Linked DNA regions of Homo sapiens: region 1 is linked to region 2. Evidence: fine-mapped expression QTL. A gene starts in region 2. The other region holds a variant in brackets. All regions are shown on one strand. Distances are between the middles of the regions. Region 1 has its middle 68 kb from the start of SOCS1. Region 2 holds the start of CLEC16A (C-type lectin domain containing 16A).

What was found.
Region 1: its variant is fine-mapped to the expression of CLEC16A in whole blood (TOPMed, PIP above 0.99).

The regions. Positions count from the first base shown.
Region 1 is chr16:11,184,000-11,192,325 of GRCh38, reverse strand. No RefSeq gene overlaps it. Among named protein-coding and RNA genes, the nearest start is that of SOCS1, 68 kb to the left of the region's middle. The variant C/G (reference allele first, on the strand shown) is at 5,115.
Region 2 is chr16:10,941,070-10,949,395 of GRCh38, reverse strand. It overlaps CLEC16A (C-type lectin domain containing 16A), which reads right to left and starts at 4,832. Exons shown (of 24, transcript NM_015226.3): 1 at 4,599-4,832. The coding sequence starts at 4,678. It overlaps DEXI (Dexi homolog), which reads left to right and starts at 6,928. Exons shown (of 2, transcript NM_014015.4): 1 at 6,928-7,827. The coding sequence starts at 7,391. The coding sequence ends at 7,678. It also overlaps a transcript of CIITA not described here. RefSeq lists enhancers at 4,760-4,819, 5,040-5,219 and a silencer at 6,789-7,338.

The sequences.
Region 1 (8,326 bases), 240 kb before region 2:
CCATCCTTCTCAGAGGAGAGGCCAAGGTATCCTCTGTGGCCTCCCCGGTCTTCCCCATCATTGCTCTGACACCTCTACCCTTACTCTCCCTAGCTCCTCTCCAGCCATGCCAGTGCTCGCAGCTCCTCCAGGGTGCTCCAGGGCCTTTGCACTGGCTGTTCCCTCTGCCTGGGGTGCTGTCACCCCAGACATCCATGAGGTTCTCTCACTCACCTCCTTCAATCTCTGCTCAAAGTCCTTTCTCAGAACAACCTTCCCTGACCTCCTGGTTTAAAACGGTAGCTCCTTTCTTCCCCTTACTGGCCTGCTGATCCCCCTTCCTTGGCTGTATTTTTATAGAATTTACCTATTTTTAATTTTCTTTGTTGCCTATGTCCCCTGCTGGGAGGTCCTTCCCTCCCTTGTCTGAGTCATTTACTGCTGCCTCCCTAGTGACCTGTACAGTGTCTGGTACACAGTATGTGCTCAGTCAACGTTTTTTGTTTGTTTGTTTTTTGTTTTTTTAGACAAAGTGCCACTCTATCACCCAAGCTGGAGTGCAGTGACATGATCTCAGCTCACTGCAACCTCCGTCTCCTGTGTTCAGGCGATTCTCATGCCTCAGCCACCTGAGTAGTTGGGACTACAGGCGCATGCCACCACACCCAGCTATTTTTTGTATTTTTAGTAGAGATGGGGTTTCGCCATGTTGGTCAGGCTGGTCTCAAACTCCTGGGCTCAAGTGATTCTCCCACCTCAGACTCCCAAAAGTGCTGGGATTACAGATGTGAGCCACTGTGCCCAGCTAAGTTTTGCTGGATCAATGTTCAAGTCCTGGGAGAAGCCAAGCCTTCCCTCTCCACCTGCTGAAGCCTCCTGGGGAGGGGCCCGAGGATGGGGCTTTCTAGTTCCCACCTCTCATGACAGATGCCATCAAGGCCCAGGCAGACGGTGCGCTGCGCCAATGGATTTTGGCAGCAGTTACTCTGAAAAGGGCTGTTCCCGCTTGGGCAGATTGGCAGGAAAAGCCCCAAGTCAATAAGGGGTGGGAGATAAGCATGTTCGAGAGAAGCCACTGAGATTGGGTGGGCTCCAGGCTGTTCCTGTGAATCTGCAGGGCAACCCAAGGTGGGGGCGGGGTGGGGCAGGTGCCCTGCTGTGGCACCTGGAGCTGGCACAAGGCCTGCTCTGGCCCTGGTCACGGTGTGGGGTGGGGGCTCCTTCTGTCTTTGGCTGCCTGTATCTGCTCTGTGAGAGGCAAAGGATGCCAGGCCCAGGGCACTGGACCAGGCTCGTGGACTCCTGCTCAAGGCACTGCCGACTTCAGATTTTAGGTCCAAGTCCCAGGGGGGACTTCGCTTCTCAGCCAAGTGGCCCTGGTTCAAGGGTCCGCCATCTGTAACATGGGGATAATAATAGTCCCAGCGCAGCAAGGTTATTGGGAGTATGAACTCCGATTAGGCTTAGAAACTGCTTAGCTAAGCCTGGCCTGGAGGAAGTGCCCATTAAGTGGGAGTTTTTGCTGCTATTTTAGCTGCAGCAACACTGCCTCATAGCTGTGTGACTCAGGATCAGTCACTCAGCCTCCCTGGTCTGGGTCTCAGTTGCTGTTCTGTAAAAGAAGATGATACTACTAGAAGGCTTCCCACCATCTACAAGAGACTCAAAATATGCAGGCTGATTGAGGCTGGGAAGCTGCTGGGGGCCTCACCTGGATCAGAGGAGACTCCAGCCCTGGAACGTCAGACCTCCAGCTGGGATGGACTAGGGACAAGTGGAGGGAGGGGGGCCGCTGGCTGTGGGAATGTCGAGGATGGAGAGGGGAAATCTGAGGAGGCTTCTCAGAGGAGGTGAACTCTGAGCTGGGCTGTAAATCGGGAAAGATTTAAAATGTACAACATTTGGCGGTGGGGAGGCTGTGGTGAGATGGGCACTTGTGTACATCGCTGGTGAGAGTGTCAGTGGTCCAATATTTTTGGAAAGCAATCTGGCAATTTGTAGCCAGAGTCTTAAGATGGTTTACCTTTCTATGATCTAGTAATTCCCATGCTCAGGACCTCTTCTGGGGAGGTAATATAAAATGTGGATAGACCATGAGGGTGCACAGCTAGCCACAGGGATACATTCCCTGCAGCAGAACTTGTTACACACTTTAGAAATGGAGTTTCCATGGCCAGACTCAGTGGCTCGCACCTGTAATCCCAGCACTTTGGGAGGCTGAGGTGGGCAAATTGCTTGAGCCCAGGAGTTTGAGATGAGGCAGGGCAACATGGGGAAAACCCATCTCTACTAAAAATACAAAAATTAGCCGGGCATGTTGGTGCATGCCTGTAATCCCAGCTACTCAGGACACCGAGGCAGGAGAATTGCCTGAACCCGGGAGGCAGAGGTTGCGGTGAGCTGAGATGGCACCACTGCACTCCTGCCTAGGCAACAGCATGAGACTCCATCTCAAAAAAAAAAAAAAAAAATGGAGTTTCCAGGATCGTGGAGAAATGATGAACCATATCATGTCACGCTGGGTCAAAAGCATGACATGAAATGACACCCACTGTGTTATTTCAATTCTAAAATGCATAGAAAAAAGACCAGAAAGAAATCTGCCAGGATGTCCACAAGGGTTGTCCTTTAATGGTGAGATTATGGGAAATACTGTTGTTCTAGACTTTGCCAAATTGCCAGGAGAGCTGTGCAGTCCTTTTGGCAACCAGTTGCAGCAACACAGCAAAAGAGAAAAATGAAACCCGGCAAAGGAAGAGGTGACGGCAGCTCAGGTAGACACCGGGCACACGGATGGTTTGTTTGGACACTTGTTGAGCCGCCGGCCTGGCCAGAGACCAAGAGCTGTCCTTTACCCGTCCTCTCCCTTGTGGCCAGTCCGACCAAACCTGTCAATTTTACCTGCTGAACATGTTGCAGGTCACCCACTTCAGCTGTGACCTGTCCCCACTGCCATGGGCTCCTCTTGATCACTCGTCACCTGCAGCTCCGGCCATCTTCTTGCCAGCCACATCCAGCCAGGCGGTTTTTTTTGTGTAAAACACTTCAGTGTGTGCCATTGCCATTGGTCCCTCGGCCAAGCTCTCCAGTGTAGCTTTGAAGGCCTCTGGGGGCTGCCCAGGCAGGCCCTCTGGGTATGGCACCGTCACGCTGCGTTCCTGCCTTTCTAGCTGGCTTCTTTACCATCTTCCATCTACGCCACGCCCAGCCTGGCCCGGGAGCTAGTGCTGCAGAGTGGAGCCAAAGAACAAACACGGGGATTGAATGAACAAGCGGAGTGGTTCCTACCATCCGCTGGGGCATGCAAATGGGGAGAGGGAACCCAGGGAGCGACCCATTTTCCAGATGAGGAAATGGAGGCCTAAGAAGTTAGTTTCTGTGCCCTGTGTGCAGATGCCACAGCTGGGAAGTCATGGTCTGCCTGTCTGTTGTTAGATCCTGTCCTTTGTGAGGGCAATGGCTGTGTTCAGGTCACCTCTGTGTCCCCAGGATGCAGCCCAAGCAGGCACACAGGCGGAGGTGGAATGAGAGAGTGAGGAGGCCCTGGGTCTCGGCCCATAGGGCAGCAACTTGAATATTTTTAGCTGCCTTCTTGGGGAGGGGACATGCGGGTAGCAGCGGAGAGTGCTCAGGAGGGTGGCCTCAGTTTACCCACAGGGGCTGGGCTAATCAAATATTGAGCTCCCTGCACCTGACCCAGGGGTTCGGAAGGGCTACTGGAGGTGAAGGGGTCAGGGTAAGGAGAAAATACTGTACCAGCCACCGATCACCAGTCTGCCCCTAGGCCCAGGTGTTGGGGGAGCTGACAGGGTGGGGAGCCCACACCTGCCAAAGACTGGTCCGTACTTCTATCCAGGTGGACAAGGGCCCAAGATCCTCACATGTGATTTTTAAAGAGAAGCCAGGAATCCAGGTATTTGTACCAGATCCCCGACGTTTAAAATCTTGGCTCAATGGTTCTTTTAAAAGCCTTTGATGGCCAAACGGAACACACAGAGGGGCTGCACTGGACCCAGGGGCTGCCCATTTGTAACCTCTGGTTTGGGGGGTGTGGCTACTGTGTTTGGGGTCTGGTAGCGCCTCCCTGCATCCACTCCAGGTCCCCAGGCCCCCACCAGTCTTCCAGCCCATGTGCCTGTTGAGTCTCCAATTTTCTGTCCAAATGAGGAGCTCACTCAGGAGCCATCTCGGCTCCAGGCGAGGCAGCTGGGAGGAAGCAGGACCTTCATGGCATGGGACAGTCCTCAGCCAACAGGGCATGAGAGTTGGGGGATAAATGCCTGACCTCCTGCCCCTCCCAGGACCAGTCCCAAGGCTCATCTATGCAGCTCTGCAGAGGGGCTCCAGAGAGGCTGAGTATCAAGTGCCCCCAGCAGTGTCTGGCGGTGACCAGGCCAGCTGTGCCCTGTCTACTGGCCTCCTGCCCTTCTCTCCCAGCTCCCACTCCAGCTTCCTGGGGCCACTACCCAAATAAACCAGCAGCACTGTGTCCTCCTTTCAGGCCTCTGATGTCAGGGGTTCCCCAAACGAAAGCCATGAGATTTTGCTCATGGCAAAGAAACAAAAATCCTTTGAGGTGTGACAAACGCCAGGAAAGAAATGGGTGGCAGCTGCTGATGGAGGAAAGCAGGGGTCTGACGTCAGAATAGTCCCTGGAAGTAACACTGATTCTGTGGACGGAGGATAACGACAGAGGATGGGTGCAGGTGCAGAGGTTGGGGAGGGGGCTGGAGGGAGGAAAGGCAGGTGCCAAGGTCCTGGGAGGGGAATCAGTTGAGGGGTCTTCCAGGACAGGGCAGAGGGCTTGTGTGCTCCAAGTGGTGGGGTGTAGCCAGGGTGGGCTGCAGAGGTGGGCCAGGCTGGCTTCTTATTTTGGGTGCTGTATCAGTCAGGATTCTTCAGAGAAACAGAACCAACAGGAGATACAGATAGGTAGGTAGATAGGTAGGCAGGTATAGATATATAGATTTATAGGCTGGGCACTGCGGTTCATGCCTGTAATCCCAGCACTTTGGGAGCCTGAGGCAGGATAATCACTTTAGGCCAGGAGTTCAAGATCAGCCTGGGCAACATAGTGAGACAAAAAAAACTAAATTACCAAGTGTGCTGGCGCACGCCCGTAGTCCCAGATGCTC[C/G]GGAGGCTGAGGCGGCAGGATCGCTTGAGCCTGGGAGTTCGAGGCTGCAGTGAGCTTTGATGGCAACACTGCACTCCAGCCTCGGTGACAGAGTGAGACCCTGTTTCTAAAATAAAATTAAATTAAAAATGAGATTTACAGATGCCCCTCAATTTACAATGAGGCTACATCCCAATAAACACATCCTAAGTTGAAAACAACTTTAGTACCTCGATAAACCTGTCATAAGGTTGAAAAATTGTCAGTTGAACCCTTATAAGTTGGGGGCCGTCTGTATTATGGGAATTGGCTCATGCAATTCTGGAGGCCAAGGGGTCCTAGAATCTGCCGTCTGCAAGCTGGGAGGCCCAGGAAAGCCAGTGTCGTTCCAGTCCAAGCTGGAAGGCCCGAGAGCCAGGGCCTCTGATGTCCAAGGGCAGGCGAAGATGGACATACGGGATCAAGCAGAAAGCAAATTTTACCTTTTTCCTCCTTGTTTTATTTGGGCCCTCAATGGATTGAATGGTGGCCGCCCACAGTGGTGAGGGTGATCTTCTTCACTCAGTCTACTCTTTCAAATGCTACTCTCTCCCCCAGCCCCCACTTTTTTTTTTGAGATAGGGTCTCACTCTGTCACCCAGGCTGGAGTGCAGTGGCCAATCTCGGCTCACTGCAGTGGCCAATCTCGGCTCACTGCAGACCTCTGCCTCCTGGGTTCAAGCGATTCTCATGTCTCAGCCTCCTGAGTAGCTGGGACTACAGGTGCCCACCACCACGCCCAGCTAATTTTTGTATTTTCGGTAGAGACAGGATTTCACCGTGTTGGTCAGGTTGGTCTCGAACTCCCGACCTCAAGTGATCCACCCACCACAGCCTCCCAAAGTGCTGGGATTACAGGCATGAGCCACCTCACCCTACTGCAAATTCTACTTTCTTGCAGAAACACCCTCCCAGTCACACTTGGAAATCATGTCATGCCGCTATCTGGGCACCCCTTAGCCCAGTCAGGCTGACACATAAACTGAATCATCACAGCTGCCTCTGAGGATCAGCTGGGGACCTTAAAAAATTCCAGGGCTCAGCTGTACCCCACAGGTGCTGGCTTTGTACCTCAGGGGGTACATGTAACTGAGGGGGCCTGGGCCTGGGCTGAAGCCTGTTTTTCTGGCTGGGCCGCTGGTGAGACCCCCTGGCTGAAATTGCATGTGCCAGGCTGGGTACAGGTGCTTGATTTACCTGCCCCCACTTCATCTACACAAGCAAGGACACTGCCAGAAAGGTTCCCATTTTACAGATGAGGAAATTGAGCCTCATGCGGTTTCACCATGTACTCAAGGCCACAGGGATGGGGAGCATTGGTGCAGGGACTTGAACCTCGTCAGCAACTCCAAAGCCTGCACTGCCACCTACTCCACCCTGCTTGAGGTCTCGCTCATCACTGAGATACCAGCAGCAGCTCGGTCTCAGCTCAGATACCTGTGGAGGGTTGGGGGACACAGAATTTCTGATGGTGGCAGAGGAAAGCCCTCAAACACTCCTACCCTTGGCAACCTGGCCCGGGCAAATTCTCCTGAAGATCTTTGGCTGGCCCTGGTAAGGCCTGGAAGACACCAGAGTGAGCACACATAGGGAGAGGCTGAAAGTTAGGGCCATGGGCATGGAGAACTGAATGGAATTCAGGCTTTAAGAATCTGGAACTGTATCCAAGAATGACTCCATCCATCAGTCCATCCATCCATCCAACATACATGCACAGAGAGCTCATGGGCCAGAGCCTGCACCCAGCTCCCACAGAACAGGTGAAAATAAAACACAGTCGTTGCCTGTGGGTGAGTCTATTGGAGAGGGAGAACTGAAATAAGAATTGCAAGGCTGGGCGCTGTGACTCACGCCTCTTGTCTTAGTGCTTTGGGAGGCTGAGGCAGGAGGACTGTTTGAGCCTAGAAGTTTGAGATCAGCCTGCACAAGTGAGACCTTCTCGCAATGAAAAAATTAATAAATTAACCAGGAGCGGCAGCATGTGCCTGTGGTCCCAGCTCTCTGGGAGGCTGAGGAAGGAGGATCGTCTGAGTCCAGGAGGTTGAAGCTGCAGTAAACTATGACCGCCCCACTGCTCTCCAGCCTTGGTGACAGAGCTTGACCCTGTCTCCAAAAAAAAAAAAAAAAGAATTCCACAGTTCGCAACACACTGTGATATGTGTGTGTCATAGTGGCATCTCTGATCTGGGATGACATTTAGGGGTACAAGGACTCAGACTTAAATACCCTAGTCCCAGAGTGAGCTGGTTCTTTTCTTCTGTCAGCATTTTTTTTTTTTTTTTTTTTGAGACAGGGTCTCACTCTGTTGCCCAAGCTGGTGTGCAATGGTGCAATCTCAGCTCACTGCAACCTCCACCTCCTGGGTTCAAGCGATTTTCCTGTTTCAGCCTCCTGAGTAGCTGGGACCACAGGCCTGGTTAATTTTTGTATTTTTAGTAGAGACGGGGTTTCACCGTGTTGGCCAGGCTGGTGTCGAACTCCTGACTTCAAGTGATCTGCCCACCTTAGCCTCCCAAAGTGCTGGGGTTATAGGCATGAGCCACCATGCCCGGCGTTTTAGCTCTTCTGATCCTATCACTGAGAAAATCTTGGTTAGGCGCCAATAGGCCTCCCCTATTAATGGCACAGGCAAGGCTGGGCCCAGAGCCTGTGGCAGGTGCTAGGACCTGGCTAAAAATTTAATGATATGGATTTGCTTGTGCTGCATTTGTTTTTATATCTTTAATTTCTGGCAAGGGTAATGGGTTGAATGGTGAGCCCTTCTAAAAAGGTGTCCATGTCCTGAATCTGGTCCCTGTGAATGTGACGTTATTTGGAAATAGGGTTTTTGCAGAGGAAATGAAGGATCTTGAGTTAAGACCACCGTCGATCAGGGCGGGCCCTAAATCCAATGACTGCTGTCCTTTCAAGAGAAAGGAGAGGGGGATTTGACACAGACACGGGGAAGAAGGTGCTGTGGGGAGAGGCAGGGACTGGAGTGATTCACTCATGGGGCGAGGAACGCCAAGTGCCGGAGCCACCGGAGCTGGGAGAGAGGCAGGAGGCAGCTTCTCCCTCTAAGCCTCCAGGAGGAGCAGCCCTGCTGGCAACTTGATTTTAGACTGGCCTGCAGAACTGTGGGAGAGTAAATATCTACTGTTTTAAGCTGCCCTGTTTGTGATCATTTGTCATGGCGGCCCTAGGAAATGAATGCT
Region 2 (8,326 bases):
AACAGCGTCTGCCTAACAAGGATGTTCCTAACTCCCTGTGCTCCCAAACTAGATGGTGGGAAGGCCTGGAAGAACTTAGACGTGACATAGTGGGAGCCTAGGACCCATAATATGTGGCATGGTGAAGACGATATTTTAAGAAAATCAACATGGCAATATTGTACCCCAAGCTCTAACACTGTCAGTGCCACCTTAGCCAAAACTTGAAAGCACCAAGAGTAGGTGTGCGTCTGTCTACCTGCCATGGATCCATTCTCCGCCTTCTTTGGGCAATAACCCCTGATTCTCCCATGGGGAACCACTCTTTTCTCTCATTCTTTTCCACTAGCTTGAGTGGAGCTAATCCCACTCTTGCTCCAGGGAAGGGAATATGAGTGAGGAATGGCCAATCAGATCCCCCTATACCTTTGGCCAGAGTGACAGTTCAGGGGTGGCATGAGACCTTGCTGGTCCAGGGATACTCAATCTCAATTCTGGACTTCTGCTGGCAATATTGAGAAAAGAAGCTCTCTTTTTCCTCAGGAATGCTAAGCTGATATGATGTAAGCCTGCAGCCTGCCTGAAAATGACACCAACAGGAAAAAGGTAGAGCTGAAAGGTGGAAAAAGGCCGATTTCTGACGGCTCCAAACACCTGGATTCAGCCATGGTTTAGCGGGGACAGACCATTCAGTGACATGAGCTATTCAATCCATTTGAGGCTTAAGGCAATTCTAGCTGGGTTTCTGTCACTGGAACCAAAAATCTTGACCCCCACACAAAGTGGACCAGAATGAAGGCCACAATACAAAAACGACCAATTTCTACCAGCCGCAGACTTGCAGTCCCTGGTAAAGATGATGTTTCAGTAGCAATCAAACGATTCCATCACTCAGGCTTCCGCTTGGTGGTGGACATTTGTCAGTCAATGTCACAGCCTTGCCACTAATCTGGACAATAAACCACCCATGGTGTGTAGCAAATAACCTCTTGACTACTTCAATCTGCCTGAGCTAAATCACTAACTCAGTTCAGCAGACAGAGACCACAGGTATGAAGTTTTCTACCATTTAGCAAAAGTAAAACCCTAACAGGAAAATTCCTTTCCAGTTTGCAAGCTGGGAGTGTTACAAAGAATAATGAAGCTAAAAACAGTTTCCAGCTCTCTGTGCTATCTTCTCAACCTTTCTGTAAATCTCAAACTGTTCTAAAAAAGTAAAGTCTAGGCCGGGTGCAGTGGCTCATGCCTGTAATCCCAGCACTTTGGGAGGTCAAGGAGGGCAGATCACAAGGTCAGGAGATCGAGACCATCCTGGCTAACACGGTGAAACCCCGTCTCTACTAAAAATACAAAAAATTAGCTGGGCGTGGTGGCGGGCGCCTGTAGTCCCAGCTACTCTGGAGGCTGAGGCAGGAGAATGGCGTGAACCCGGGAGGCGGAGCTTGCAGTGAGCCAAGATCGTGCCACTGCACTCCAGCCTGGGCAACAGAGCAAGACTCTTATCTCAAAAAAAAAAAGAAGAGGGTTTCCAGATGCCTTGTGTATTTAAAAAATAATAATAATAAATAAATAATTCTTTTAACTATCTTAAACTTTCCCTCTCCATCCATACTGCTCTAGGTCAAGGTAAGAGTGTATTAAGAACTGTCACTTGTCACTGGTAGGGTGACCAGTTTATACTAGTTTGTCCAGGACTTTCCCAGTTTTAGCACTGAAAGTCCCATATCCTGGGAAACCCCTCAGCCCAGGCAAACCAGGACGGTTGGTCACCCGAAGTGTCAGATAAATCCCAAGCCCCTTCCTACTTCCAGCCTTGTTTCCCACAGCTATCAGCCCCCACCTGGACATGCCACAAAACCCGCAGGGTCCTGGTCACAGTGCTCCGCCTCCCGCCCCTGCTGCCCGCCAATGGTGGCTTCTGTTCATTCTTGGAGAACCCGCGCTGGTGTTGTCTCCTCCAGAAAGCTCCCAATAAGGGTTCCCACAGAACCCTGGGTCCATGGCGATCTCAGCACTTATCACACTGTACAGTCACTGGCTCTACAGCTGTCTCCCCCACCAGCCTGCAAACTCCCTCAGGGAACGAGCTGTTCTGTACCCAAGACCCAAGATGTTTACCAACAGAGCCAAATGCAGAGTGGCACAAGCCCCAGGGTGGGCACTGGCTGTTTACAAAACTCTTTTCCAAGTCACTGGGGGATCTTCTAACCCCCCCACCAATACACAAATCTCAGGTTCTTGGGGCTGTAATATGGATTAAGCTGATCTGCCTGATTCAGGGCAGGCAACTTGGGTTTCCAAAGAAGCATCCGATAGACATGTGATCTAAACAATGAACCCAGGCAGTTCCCAGGATACTGCAAAGGAACCAGAGACCGTTTACCATTCCCTGCTGGCTGGCAAAGATGCCCCATTGGCGATGAGACTCAGCCAAGTCAAAAGTGTTCTCAAACAGACTTATTGGGAAGTTTTATTCAGAAAGACAGTATAATGAGCACAAGCTCGGGAGTCAAATCCTGCCTCTGGTACCCTTCAGCTGCTGACACCTGGGGGCAAGTCACTGAAGCCCCCTGAACCTTAGTTTCCACTTCCGTAAAATGGAAACAATAATGGTTCCTGTAACTCAGACTTGTGAGGACTAAGGGAATTAACACACAGGCAGTCCTTAGCAAATACCTGGTACAGAATAATGCATTCGATAAATTAATAAATTAAGGTAATTTAAAAGGGCTAGAGTTAAGCAGAGTTAGGTGAGAACCTGGAGGTACCTGGATGCCGGCAGGAGGCCCAACCTCCTCTGGATAACTCCCCTCCCCTCCTCAGCCACCTCCGCCCACTCGATAAATTCCTGAAATCCTTCAACCACTCCCTTTCCCGGCCAGCTGCCCTCCCATCTAAGATCCCCACCTCCCTACCCACCCCAGACTTGTCCTGGGCCTCTTTCCTCCCCTTGTCTTCTCTCACCACCTCCTGCTCTAAAAGTGCCCCTCACCACATAGTGAACCCTCCTGCTCCCCACTCTTCAAGACTCACAAACGTTTACTAAATGCTGCTCCATGCTAGAAAGGTCACAGCTGAGAACTGTGGCCCTGCCACTACCCCTACCCCACTCCCGGGGACACATGAGAAGTCCCTATCTAATTCCCTCCCACCAATCCTTTCCACAGCCCCGTCTCCCTTCCACTACTTCCCACCATATCCCTAACCCTATCTTCCTCCTTTCCCATTAGTAGTCTCAGGATCTCCTTCTGGAAACCTGCCTATTTCTTGACACTGAAGATTTGTCTACTCCCCTCTTCAGCATCCCCGCCATTTCCCTCCCTAAAGCCTTTCCCTTCATACAGATCTCTATTTTTCATCATCCTCCACACCTGCCCCCAAATCCTGGGTCCTGGCCTGCATGCTCTTCATCTCTCCCCAATTCAATCATTCATTTTTCCACTCTTTAAGTAAGCAGAGAGCAGTCCTAGATGCTGGGAATACAACTGTGAACAAACCAAGCAGTCTGTGCCCTCGTGAAGTGCCAGTTTAACAGAAGACAGAAAATAAGTATAAATAAAAAATAAAGAATAATCGCAGAGAGTGGAGAAGCACTCAATGAAAGCAAGAGAAAGATGTGATGGATAGGAACTGGGATGGGGGGAGCACGTTAGGTAGGGTGGTCTGGGAAGGCCTCGCTGAGCTGATAATAAACACAGCTACCACTACTGGCCACCTACTATGTACCTACTGGGTCAGTCACCTTCCATTTCCATTACAATGTTCACGATCCCCATTTGCAAATGGGAATCTGGAGGCTCAGAGAGGTGAAGTAATTTGCCCAAGGTCACACAGCCAGTAAATGGTGGTTTCAGGATTTGAACGCAGGTGTGGCTGCAAAGCCAGCCTCTTAATTTCTGCACTCCTGGTCCCAAGACCCTATCTGCCACCTGTCCTCCCCCAGAGCTGTAGAGTCATTCCCTCCTCAGAGGTCTCTATTTTTCATCATCCTCCCCAATCGCCCCAAAATCCTGGGTCTCAGCGTGCATGCCCCCAGCTTAGACTCCCCTCGGAAAATAATCTGTTCTTTTATAATAATTAATGCCGTTTAATGAGCAATTGTACGTGTTCTGAGCTTAACGTTCATTCTCTTATCCAACCAACTCTCAACACAATAGCAGGAAGCAGGTGCTGTCACTCTACTCTTTTTACAAGTGGGGAACCTGAGGCCTACATTCACACAGATAGATTCGGACCCAGATCTGCCCGACTCCAGGACCCAGGCCTTTGACCCTCTAAGCTGTTCAGTTTAAGAAGTACCCCGCCAGGAAACTTGGTGGACACCGTCAAGAACAAAGTCTGTGTCCATAAACTGAAATCGCATCCTCTCGCTTTACAGGTGGGGATACGGAGACTCTGAGAAATTAAGCGACTTGTCCAAGGTCACACAGCCAAGAGCGACGGGGTCAGGGTTCGAACCCAGGCGCCCTGACTCCCGAGCCCTCGCTCTTAACCACCACACGGGCTTCCCCGGGCGCCCTTCGCCGCCGCTCTCACGCCTCCTAGAGCCCCGACCCGGAGCTCGGCGCCCCGTCCCCCTGTCCAGCCCCGAGGCCTCCCGCTACGCCCCCCACACTCACTTGAGGTGGTCCAAGGAGTGGATGTTGCGGGAAGTCTTGCCATGGCCCCCGCCCACCCAGCTCCGCGAGCGGCCAAACATGTCGGCGGCCCCGACCCGTCTCTCGTCTCACGGTCTCATGCCGGACCAGCAGAGCGGCCCAGCGCCCGCGGCGGTAGCACAAGCGGAGGATGCGGCGGCGGAGGCGGTGGAGGAACCGCGAGCCGCCTTCCTCCCCGGCCCACAGCCCAGCACTGACATTCAGCCGGAACCGGCCGTTCGACCGCCGCGCTTTACGGCCGCCGCCGCGTGGGGCGCTGGGAAATGCAGTTCACCCGCGTGGCCTTCGGCGGCAGGACTCCGCGAACGGACTACAAGGCCCGGCATGCATCGTGCAACCGCGGGCCTACGGCCATCCACAAAAGGCGGGGCGAGAGGAGGAGCGACCGCAGAATCCTCCGGGTGGGCGGGAATTGGAAGCTTTGGGCGCAGTCCCGGAGAGGGAATCGGCGTAGATGGGTCAAGGAAAGTCACCACTGTAGTAACAATTACTAGATTTATAATAAGAATAAGAATAGTATTGGATGGTGTATACTATGCAAAGCCACTATCCTAAGGGCTTTACATATTAAGGTATTTAATTTTCACAACCATCCTATGAATTGGGTACTATTATCGAACCTATTTTATCATCAGGGAAACGGAGTCACTGAGAGGTTGACTTACCCAAGATCATGCAGTTAACAAGTGGCAAAACCAGGGTTCATAACCACGCACGCACCCTTATTTTTCATTCCCTTTATAAACCAAAACGGCACTAGATAACAACCTTATTTGTCCTGACAGCCTTTTTCTTTTTCCACTTCAATTAAGTGTGTGTGTGTGTGTGTGTGTGTGTGTGTGTGTGTGTGTGTGTGTGTGTGTGTGTTGGAAAAGGCTGGATGCAACAATGCACCAAACTGAACATTTTGTACTTCCAGAGGATTCCTCTGGTCTTCAGCCAGAATCCATGCTATTTCCCAAAGTACCACGTTAAAATGAAAAAGGAAACACCCAACTTTCTGCATGAGCCAGAATATATCTAACTTCTACCCTGGATTAGAAGTGGTAAGTTCAGTGTGGGCAAGACTTCTCAAGTTTACCATCCATTCATTCATTCAGTCACTTCTACATATCAACCTTATTAAAGGTCCACTGTGTCCCATTAACTCTGCTCAAGAAAGAACTGGGCCAGAGGCCAATGTTCTCCCCAGTGCCTAGCACAAGGTTTGGCACATAGCAGGTGTTTAACAAATATTGGTAGAGTGCATGAATGAGTAAAGGTTTGTTTCACCTTCAGCAGTTGGAGAAATGGATAAGAGTGGAGAGTTAATGGTTTGTCCTGTAATTCATATAGAGTGGGGCAAGACAAAGTCATGGAGCAAAAAAGAACAGGATCTGGCCTCCAAAGAAACACACCCAGGCTCAGAAATGTAGGATCCCTGGGCTCGTATTTTTCATCTGTAAAAAGTACGCACATACATACTACACTGCCTTGTATACCTCCGATTAAGCGATGCATGTAAAATACTCAGCTCAGTGTGGCCTGAGATTTAAAGGTTTCTTGAACTGCTTTGGAAGGCTCTTTGGGCGAGATCATGTTTTCCTGAAAGACATGCAACGGTTACCCAAGAGCAGGGGAACCAGTGGGTGGGAGAGACTCACTTTTCTGTGTACTTCACGGTTGTTTGAATGTTTAGCCATGTGTATTATTGCTTTTAAACATGATTCACAAAGTAAAAAGAAACAAAAAGCATCCTTATGGTTGAAGATCTGAACTACCTCGGAATCTCTTTATTCAGGTGTTCCTTAACTCTAGGATGCAGGTTCCGTAGTGGGCGGACCTTCCAGCAACCAGAGTTTGGAGAAGCGAAGGGGACACTGGTGGATCTCCACCATGAAAATTGGCGCTTTGGGAATGTCCAAAATTTCCAGGGCAACCGTCCGTCGCCCCTCCCCGACCCCGCCTCCTTTTAAAGGAGAAACGGAGTCCCAAAGAGGCATGCAGCAAGGTGCAGCGGTAGCCCGGGTTTCCTTCGGCTTTTGCGGCCTTAGCATTATGTCTAGGTTTGAACTGTGTTCAGTCTCTTTTACCTCCCCCTATTCGATACGCAGAGCGAATTCGATTTGAGATCTGAGGGCAGACCCGAACCAGGAAAGCAACTCAGACGCTAGGGCCCCGAGGGGCGGAGCGAAGCGGTACCCGCCCCCTGGCGGCCGGAGCCAATCAGCGCGGGCGTTGAGCCGGCCAATTAGCGCGTGCAGGGGGCGGCCTGCCAATGAGCTCGGGGCCCCTCGGGAGGCGGAGCTCCGAGCGCCACCGGGAGGGCTACGCGGCGGCCGCAGCCATGGGTGCTGGGCCTGCGGGGGCGCGGGGGGTGCGCGAGGACCTGCGGGGCGGGGCGGGAGAGAAGGCTGCCGGGACCGGCCCTAGACACTGAGCCGCGGTGGGATCCCCACCGGCTCTGCGAGGCCCTGCGAGCGCCAGGGAGGCGCCACGAGGGAGCCGGGCAGCCGCGGGCCACTTCAGGGGGGCCCGCCTCGCCGCCCGGGCGGTCGAGAGATCCTTGGGGGCACATCTCGGGGTGCGGTGACCCGCCCGGCGCATTTCGGGGGTCGGGGCGCAATTGCCAGGGGACATCTGGAGCCCGGCCCTGCTTCTGTCGGGCTCCAGGGTACCCCTGGATGGCTGCGCTGTGCCCTCGCCGGCCGCCCGGGCGCCGCAGCGGCTGAGTTCGCCGGGATCGCCGGGCCGCCGCCCTTGCCACCCGCTGCATGCTCGGCGCCCGGGTCGCGGCCCACCTGGACGCACTGGGCCCCCTGGTCCCCTACGTGCCGCCGCCGCTGCTGCCCTCTATGTTCTACGTGGGCCTGTTCTTCGTCAATGTGCTGATCCTGTACTACGCCTTCCTCATGGAGTACATCGTCCTCAACGTGGGCCTCGTCTTCCTGCCCGAGGACATGGACCAGGCGCTCGTGGACCTCGGCGTGCTCTCCGACCCCGGCTCGGGCCTTTACGATGCTGACTCGGAGCTCGACGTCTTTGATGCGTACTTGGAGTAGGGTCTCGACTGCTGTTCCCCTCTTCCCTACACGATCCGCAACCCATGCCCTGGACCAGCCGCCCAGATCATGCCGCCGCAGCTGGTTGGGGGCACCATCTGGACGGGGATGGTTCCCCAGGAGGAGACCCTCCCCTGCCTCCGAGGCCTGTAAGTGCCCTCTCTGAACAGGATGAGGGCGGGTTGGGGCGCTAGCAAGGGAGAGGGAGGAATTCCCAGGCCGGATACACACCCCTCCCTCAGGCTTCTCCTCCGTTCACCTCCTCCAGGTCTAACTGGATGCCAGGAATGGCCAGACTCCTCTTAAGCCCTTCGTTTGGGCTGGAAAGCTTCCTCCAGCAAAGGGGACAGCTGGTGAAAAGGAAGGAGACCCCGAGACTAAGTTACATTTGGGGTAGCTCTGTGACTTACCCCCAAAGCTTATGGAAAAAGCCTTCGCTCCCAAATCCATTTGAGGCAGAGCTGTCAGCTCCTCCTCCAGTCCTCATCCTGGCTTGATGATGACCTTGGCTTTTGGGGGATTCTCGCTTGTCCTAGAAGGATAAAGATTTAGGGGTGTCAGAAGACACAGGGAGCCAGGCACGAATCACCTTTGTACTGTGGCCCTTGGGGTAGCTGGGTGGGGATTAAGTGCAGGGGCTCTAGGCCA